Homo sapiens: one gene and its partner. The gene in region 2 interacts genetically with the main gene of each other region. Each region holds a gene or a part of one and is shown on either strand. Other genes may lie near its edges. The genes, in order: PTK6 and RET.

Region 1 (3,750 bases), on a different chromosome or scaffold from region 2:
CAGAGGGTGTTTTCCCCGACGAGGATGTTCCTGGCGGCCAGGTCCCGGTGGATGTAATTCTGCGACTCCAGGTAACACATGCCCTCAGCCACCTGCCAGGCGATGTCCAGCAGCTCCGAAACGGGCAGGACTTTCTCATCAGAGTCTGCAGAGGGGAGTGGAGCAGAGCCTGGGGTCAGCTGAGCCAGCTGAGGTGGGGAAGGGTTGGGGAGGCTGGGCCATGTCTCATCTGCCTCCAAGCTCTGCGGGCTCAGAGGAGGGGCCGGGGCAAAGGGCAGCTGGCCTGATTGAAAATTGGAACTGCAGGCCAGCTACCGCCCTTCTGGAAGGCAACTGTTTATCACGAACCAAGGAGCAAGCTGGGCGTGGTGGCTCACGCCTGTAATCCCAGCACTTTGAGAGGCTGAGGCGGATGGATCACGAGGTCAGGAGATCGAGACCATCCTGGCTAACACGGTGAAACCCCATCTCTACTAAAAATACAAAAAATTAGCCGGGCGTGGTGGCGGGCGCCTGTAGTCCCAGCTACTCGGGAGGCTGAGGCAGGAGAATGGCGTGAACCCGGGAGGCGGAGCTTGCAGTGAGCCGAGATCACGCCACTGCACTCCAGCCTGGGCGACAGAGCCAGACTCCGTCTCAAAAAAAAAAAAAAAAAATATATATATATATATATATATATATAATTAGCTGGGCGTGGTGACAGGTGCCTGTAATCTCAGCTACTCAGGTGGCTGAGGCAGGAGAATCATTTGAACCCAGGAGGTGGAGGTTACAGTGAGCCGAGACTGCGCCATTGCACTCCAGCCTGGGCGACAGAGTGAGACTCCGTCTCAAAAAAAAAAAAAAGAACCAAGGAGCAGTTCCTAGTGGTCTAGCCCAGCGATTTCCCTTCTGGAAGTTTGTGATGACGCGGGAGGAGCTGGACGCAGAAGGACCAGCGAAGAGGCTCATGACTGCGTGATGTAGGCAGTGGGAACTCGAACAGGAGAATGGCTGTCAGCGGCTTGCGGCCTGGTGGTGCCTGTTTTACCCCACATTCCCTCCCGGAGGACCCTGAAGGGCGTGGGGACTGTCTGAGATGATCAAGCCCTTTGTGTGAGGGCGAGGGGTACGGAGCCTTTCGCTCAGAGCGCAAACGTGCGTGGTGCCTCAGTGTAGCTCTCCTCAGACACACACGGCATTTTTCCTATACCACAACGTTCCCTCCCATTCTAACATCGGAATCCAAACTGCGCCTTCACGCACGGGCATCTCCATTCCCTGGCAGCGATTGTCTTTGGTTTTGGTGAGAAAGGAAATAATGGAACTTAGAGAGGATGAAGTCTTTGAGCCAATGTGATCTGTGTGTGTCTGTGTGTGTGTCTGGATCAGTGTGTGTCTGTGTGTGTGTGTGTCTGTGTGTGTCCGTGTGATCTGTGTGTGTGTCTGTGTGTGTCCGTGTGATCTGTTTTGTGTGTCTCTGTGTGTGTGTCTGTGTCTATGTGTATGTCTGTGTGTGTCATGTGATGTGTCTTGTGTGTGTGTCTGTGTGTGCATGTGTATGTCTGTGTGCATGTGTGTGTGCATGTGTGTCTGTGCGTGTGTGTCTCTGTGTGTCTGTGTCTGTGTCTGTGTGTGCATGTGTGTGTCTGTGTGTCTGTGTGTCTACGTGTGTGTGTGTGTAGACGTGGGGGGGGGGTGTGCACTTTATTTCCTCACGTGCCCCCGCTGCCTCCAGCAAGAGCCCCGGCCCATGCCACTCACCGCGGAGCAGCTCCAGCAGGCTGCCCTTGGCCATGAGCTCCGTGATGATGTACACGGGGTCCCCCACGGACACCACGGCGTACAGCGCCAGGATGTGTTTGTGCCGCAGCTTCTTCATGGCCTGGATCTCCGACTGCAGCATCTGCTGGTGCAGGAGGTTGTCTGCGGGGACGGGTGGCCTCGGTGGATGCAGCCCCTGACCCCCCAGGCCCCAAGGAAGAGGCCAAGGCCCTGCCCCCACACACAGCAGCCATCACACCCAGCAGCTGTGCAGGACACACAGACCTCCTGCCCCCGACAGGGCACCTGGCTCCCGAGGCCACGAAATGGCAGATGCAGCCGGCCCCACAGGGCCCCAGCCTGGCGTACCCACGGGGCTGTGGTGGCCACCCGATTTCTTCCTGTGCCCGGCCCAGACCTCTGACATAGAGGCCAGACCTCTGCTGGGGCCCAGACGGGTTCCAGGGAAGTTTTACCCATTTCCAGTGATCTATTTTAATGGCTTTCCATTACGTCAAGGATTTTAAATTTTCTTTCTTTCTTTCTTTTTTTTTTTTCCCAAGACGGGGTCTTGCTCTGTCGCCCAGGCTGGAGTGCAATGGCGCGATCTCAGCTCACTGCAATCTCCGCCTCCTGGGTTGAAGCGATTCTCCTGCCTCAGCCTCCCGAGTAGCTGGGACTACAGGCACATGCCTCCACACTCGGCTAATTTTTGTATTTTTAGTAGAGACGTGGTTTCCCCATGTTGGCCAGGCTGGTCTCAAACTCCTGACCTCGTGATCCGCCCACCTTGGCTTCCCAAAGTGTGGGGATTACAGATGTGAGCCACCGTGCCCGGCCTAAAATTTTCTTTTATAATAAATGTATTTAGGTAAAAACATAGGTGCAATTGAAAGGGAACCACTCTCGCATGGACGCTGTGGGTGCTGCTTGGGGCTCGAGGCCAGAGGTCCCTGTTGGCGGGGTGGGAGGGTGGCCCAGGGCAGGCACGGGGCCACACAGAGCCCTGATCGGGGCCCACTCACCTCGAGAAATCACCTTAATGGCCACCTGGACCCGGTCTTTCCAGAGCCCCTCGAAGACCTCCCCAAAGTAGCCGGACCCCAGCTTCCTGCAGAGCGTGAACTCCTCCCTCGGCCTCTCCCAGTCATCCCAATGGGGCAGGGGCTCAGGCTCGTGCTGGAGGAAGAGTCGGGGACACAGGGCAGGGGCTCATCCTTCAGGAAGTGCCAGTCTGAAGCCAGCACAGGGAGCCTGGATTTAGCCTCAGATTTAGGGCCACGATCAGCCTGGGTTGGGGGTTTCTGAGTGTCTGACACAAGGGTGGACTCTCCTGGGGGCTGCCCCCAGCCCAGCATGAAACACCCAGACAGACCGGAGCCAGGACCCTGCAGAGTGCCGCTGGCCTCTCCGAGAGTGGCCAGGCCCGGGGATGGTCTCCTGGCCCCACCCCCAACTCAGGCAAACACCTGTGCTCTGCAGAACCATGGGCTTCCCTCCAGTGGGCCCCAGGTCAGTGAGTCAGGACCCCTCCCATGCTGCCCGGCCAACCTCTCCCAGTAGGAAATGCCAGCCTGTGACCCCCCAGCCTGACCCCGCGTGACCAAGTCAGGGCGGAGCGGCTACCTTCCGGCAGGGCGCGGCCAGCCGCAGGCCGTGGGACAGGCTCTGGGCCCTGTGGTAGTTCACAAGCTCGGGCAGGCTGAGGAAGGACACCGCCTCGTTCAGGTGCAGCCGGCCCCCGGCACGCCGCCAGATCTTGTAGTGCCGCACAGCCTGCGTGTCCCGCACTGGGAGGGAGAGCGTGAGCTGTGTGGCCACCCCAACTCCGACGCCTCCCTGCGTCCCCAGCCCTGCTGGCCACACCTGCGCAGAGTTTCTGGGTCCCCACAGTTGCTGTTGGTGCTTCCTCAGTACCACCCCTGCCTCCCCTCCCTCAGAACGGCTCCCTCCTGCCCTGCACGCTCTGGCCAAGCTCTCTGGCCCCTCCTGCCCCCGTGCCAGGCA
Region 2 (3,812 bases):
CCCTCCCAGGAATCCCAGGCCACCTCCCAGCCTGAGATGGGAACTGCCAGGGCCCTGTGGCCACTGGGTGCTCAGCTTCCTCCCTGGAGGCTCCTGCCGAGGAGCTATTCACGCCACCATAAGCTGCGTGGCTCACCGTTCACTCACACCCTTGGCTCTGAGCCTCTGTTACTTCCAGAACTGGGCTTGGCTTCCAGCGCCCTGGACAGTGCTAGTAGGAACACTGAAGGGGCAGGCCACCACCAGGAGAGGGCAGAGGCCTGCCTGGCCGGGACAAGGAGGCTCCAGGATACTCGGCACAGCCTGGAGGCTCTGAGTAGCACATGCAGACCTGCAGGCCAGGCTCCCCAGAAAGGCACCCCCTTCTGACTTCAGTGCCCCTCCATCCACACTGCTGCTCCCCTGCCCGATGCTGTGACCCTGACCACTGCCTCTCACCTAGATGGGAACGGCACCTCATCACAGTCCCACCCCACAGACTGTCCCCACACAGCGCCCTATGGAAATGGGGGCAGAACACAGGCCTCGTCTGCCCAGCGTTGGCAGCCCCTCACAGGATGGCCTCTGTCTCCCCAGCTGGCCTCCCTCCCTGGAAGGCAGCTGGGGAGGGCAGGGGATCTTCCCTGCCCCGCAGGGACCCTCACCAGGATCTTGAAGGCATCCACGGAGACCTGGTTCTCCATGGAGTCCAGCGAGGGCCGGCGGGCACCGGAAGAGGAGTAGCTGACCGGGAAGGCCTGGGCGGGCCTCCGGAAGGTCATCTCAGCTGAGGAGATGGGTGGCTTGTGGGCAAACTTGTGGTAGCAGTGGATGCAGAAGGCAGACAGCAGCACCGAGACGATGAAGGAGAAGAGGACAGCGGCTGCGATCACCGTGCGGCACAGCTCGTCGCACAGTGGATCTGTGGGTGGGGGTGGTGTGAGGCTTGGCACCGCCAGAGGCTCGGCACCACTGGGTACAGGCTGCGTATGCTCTGCCTCATGGCTCTCCAGCCTGCCGTGTCCGCGCCAGCTGGGAAGTGGCCATGGAGGTGTGGGAAGGCCTGAGAACACCCCATCGAGCATGGGTACTGCCATTTACTGCCCCCTCCTAGACCACTATTGCCCTCTTACAGATGGAGACAGAGGCTCAGAGAGGCTGAGCAGCCTGCCAAGGTCACACAGCAGAGGCTGTGCTCATTACACCAGCTGGCACTGGAGGGCTGGCAGGGGAGGTCAAAATTTTCCTCTGTTCCAAATGTCTTTGGCATTTTCTTTATGAAAATGCTAAGTGGCTAGGGACGTAGGGCTATATAATACCAGAAAACTCAATGACAGAAACGTGTCCCTATGCTCAGGCAGAACAGCACCCCTGAGTGTAGTCAGTGTGGCTGTGCAACCCACCATACCTGCTGACCTTGAAATGTGTTCCTGGGTGGGTCCCAGCTGCATGGTCACAGGGACAGTGACTTGTCAGGCTGACAAGTTGTTTGGTGGAAGAACTGCTTTTCTGGCCTGTCCATCATAGAACTTATGGCCAGAAGACACTTTACAGGGGCCCTGGCCCCTCTCCTGGGTGGAGTAACAGAGGCCCAGAGGGAGGGAGGGAAGTTTCATGGGGCCCACTCGCCTCCCAGCAATTTCCTCCCTTGTTGGGACCTCAGATGTGCTGTTGAGACCTCTGTGGGGCTGGGAGGTGGTGGTGGTCCCGGCCGCCACCCACTCACCCTGGATGTCTTCGGGCTCGCAGAAGCACTTCTCCTCCTCAGGGAAGCAGTTGCAGGTGCCATAGCCAGCTTTAATCCCCCGGGGCTCCCCAGGCTCGTGTCCCCCAACAATGCTGCCCCCTGAGGGCAGACGTAGCCCACTCAGCCTCCTGGGGCGCCTGACCACCCCAGGCGCCCATATTTCCAGGGCAGTGTCCCAAGGAGCCCCCTCCCCAACTGGTGTCGCAAGCATAGGCCCAGTGAGGCCAGGGGCCCAGCAGCTTGGCTTAGCCGGGCAGGGCTTGGTCACAGTGCCTTTCTGAAGCCATGGGTGAAGCCAGGCCCCCTCCTAACATTTCATCTGAACAAAGGACTCTGCCTCCAAAACTGGAGCCTGGTGGCCTGACCCGCACATTGCAGTGTCCCTCGTCTGGCTCAGGGCCGCACTTTCCCTGTCAGTGTCCCTACTGACCATTCTCTGCTTCTGAAATCTGTGTGTGCCGACTTCTGGGACCTCAGCAGGGGCCTGGACAGTCTGTGGGTCCCTGCCTTCCCCCTGTCCCTGACCCTGCCTGCTCCCTCCCCATGGCTAGGGTGATGCTGAAATGCACAGGAGGCTCAGCTTGATGCATAGAACTGACAGCCCTGGCAACTCTGGCTGAAGTGCCTGTGGGATCCAGGTTTCCCCTACTATCTCCTACCTGTTCCCATGCCCTGATTAAACCCTGCTTACGGAGGCAGTCCTGAGGGCAAATGTTGATGTCTTGGGTCTCCACAACATCGCAGTGGCCGTCGGGGCAGGTCTTGGTGCTGGGAGAGCAGGTGGAGAAGTTCCTGGTGATCCCTGCACAGGACACACAGCAGGCTGTCACCCATGTGGGAGCCCCGCCACACGCCCCCACCACCTCCTAGGCAGATCCTGCCCCTCTAGGGAGGAGCAACTGGAGGCCTGAGTAGGGAAACACCATATACAGAGCCTTGCCAGCGGAAGCATCCTGGGGAGCCATGGCTTATGGGAGAGGAGGTATGGGGGGTTCCTCACACAGGTGGCCCTTACAGCAAAGAGGCCGGGACCCTCTCAGGGCTGCATGGTGAGGGCCCCTCATGGTGGTGGGCACACCCAGGCTGGCCTCTGGCTGATGCAGACAATGAGTCCCCTGCCCACACCACATCCCCTGGCCGAGGACCTCCCAGAAAAACGCCATTCTGTCCCCAGCACATCCCAACTTTGGTTCAGACCTTCCCAAGTCCAGAGTGAATCCGGCCTGGGGACCATTCACTGTACTCACAAGCCCTCTCCCAAGCCCTGCACTGCTGCCCGCTATGCTGGCATCGAGAGCCACATGGGGGATGAGGTGCCAGAAGCAGACCTGGAGCAGGGAGAGCCACCCCAGGCTGGCAGGGCCCCAGGACCCCGTTTCCACCGGTGCCATCGCCCCTGCAGGCCTCCCTTGGGCGTTTCCAGGGCTTACCTTTGCCATCTCCTTGCCTCCACTCACACCTGCCTGTTGGGGAGCCCAGGCCGCCACACTCCTCACACTCCAGCCGTCTCTTGCTGACTGCACAGGACAGGGGGCAGCCCGCCTCCTCGGCCACATCTGCAGGTGGCAGACAAGCAGGGTCACAGGGGGCTGGCCTGGGCCCAGCGTCCAGCTAGTGCCCAAGGACAGGGAACAGCACCAGCTGAGCTGCCCACGGATGGAGCCCAAGGGGACCGGAGTGACAGACCCAGGGCAGCAAAGACAGTGCCAGGAGCACAGGGCGCAGGGCAGGGTACAGGACATCATGGTCACAAAGCAGGGGTCACCTGGGCTGGGGTAAGTACAGGAGGAAGGATGTGAGTGCAGCCAGATTCAGCCAACGACGCCCTGTGGGACCTACATTTCAGATACACAATGAATGGCATGAATGGCAGCTGTGTCAGCATGTTCCTAAGAGGGCATGGATGGACCTAGAGGTGTGTCTTTCGAGAAGCTGCAAAAGTTGCATGGAACACACCTATACCAAAAAACTGCTTGTTGTTTACCCAAAATTCAAATTTACCCAAGGTCCTGTATGTTATCTGGAAGGAGCAACCATTTACTGCTGGGTCACTCAGGGTGAAGCTGGTCCATGCCTTCCCCACTCC

The links.
Region 1: changes in RET (region 2) and PTK6 together harm fitness less than expected from each alone (positive genetic interaction), as found in Homo sapiens cells (one large-scale study listed by BioGRID).

The regions. Positions count from the first base shown.
Region 1 is NC_000020.11:63,530,783-63,534,532, forward strand, and holds part of PTK6 (protein-tyrosine kinase 6), read right to left. Parts: intron 3,534-3,750; coding exon 3,370-3,533; intron 2,923-3,369; coding exon 2,769-2,922; intron 1,906-2,768; coding exon 1,744-1,905; intron 146-1,743; coding exon 1-145. UniProt on the Homo sapiens protein: Non-receptor tyrosine-protein kinase implicated in the regulation of a variety of signaling pathways that control the differentiation and maintenance of normal epithelia, as well as tumor growth.
Region 2 is NC_000010.11:43,111,569-43,115,380, reverse strand, and holds part of RET (proto-oncogene tyrosine-protein kinase receptor Ret isoform a precursor), read right to left. Parts: intron 3,283-3,812; coding exon 3,157-3,282; intron 2,529-3,156; coding exon 2,418-2,528; intron 1,826-2,417; coding exon 1,706-1,825; intron 902-1,705; coding exon 645-901; intron 1-644. UniProt on the Homo sapiens protein: Receptor tyrosine-protein kinase involved in numerous cellular mechanisms including cell proliferation, neuronal navigation, cell migration, and cell differentiation in response to glia cell line-derived growth family factors (GDNF, NRTN, ARTN, PSPN and GDF15).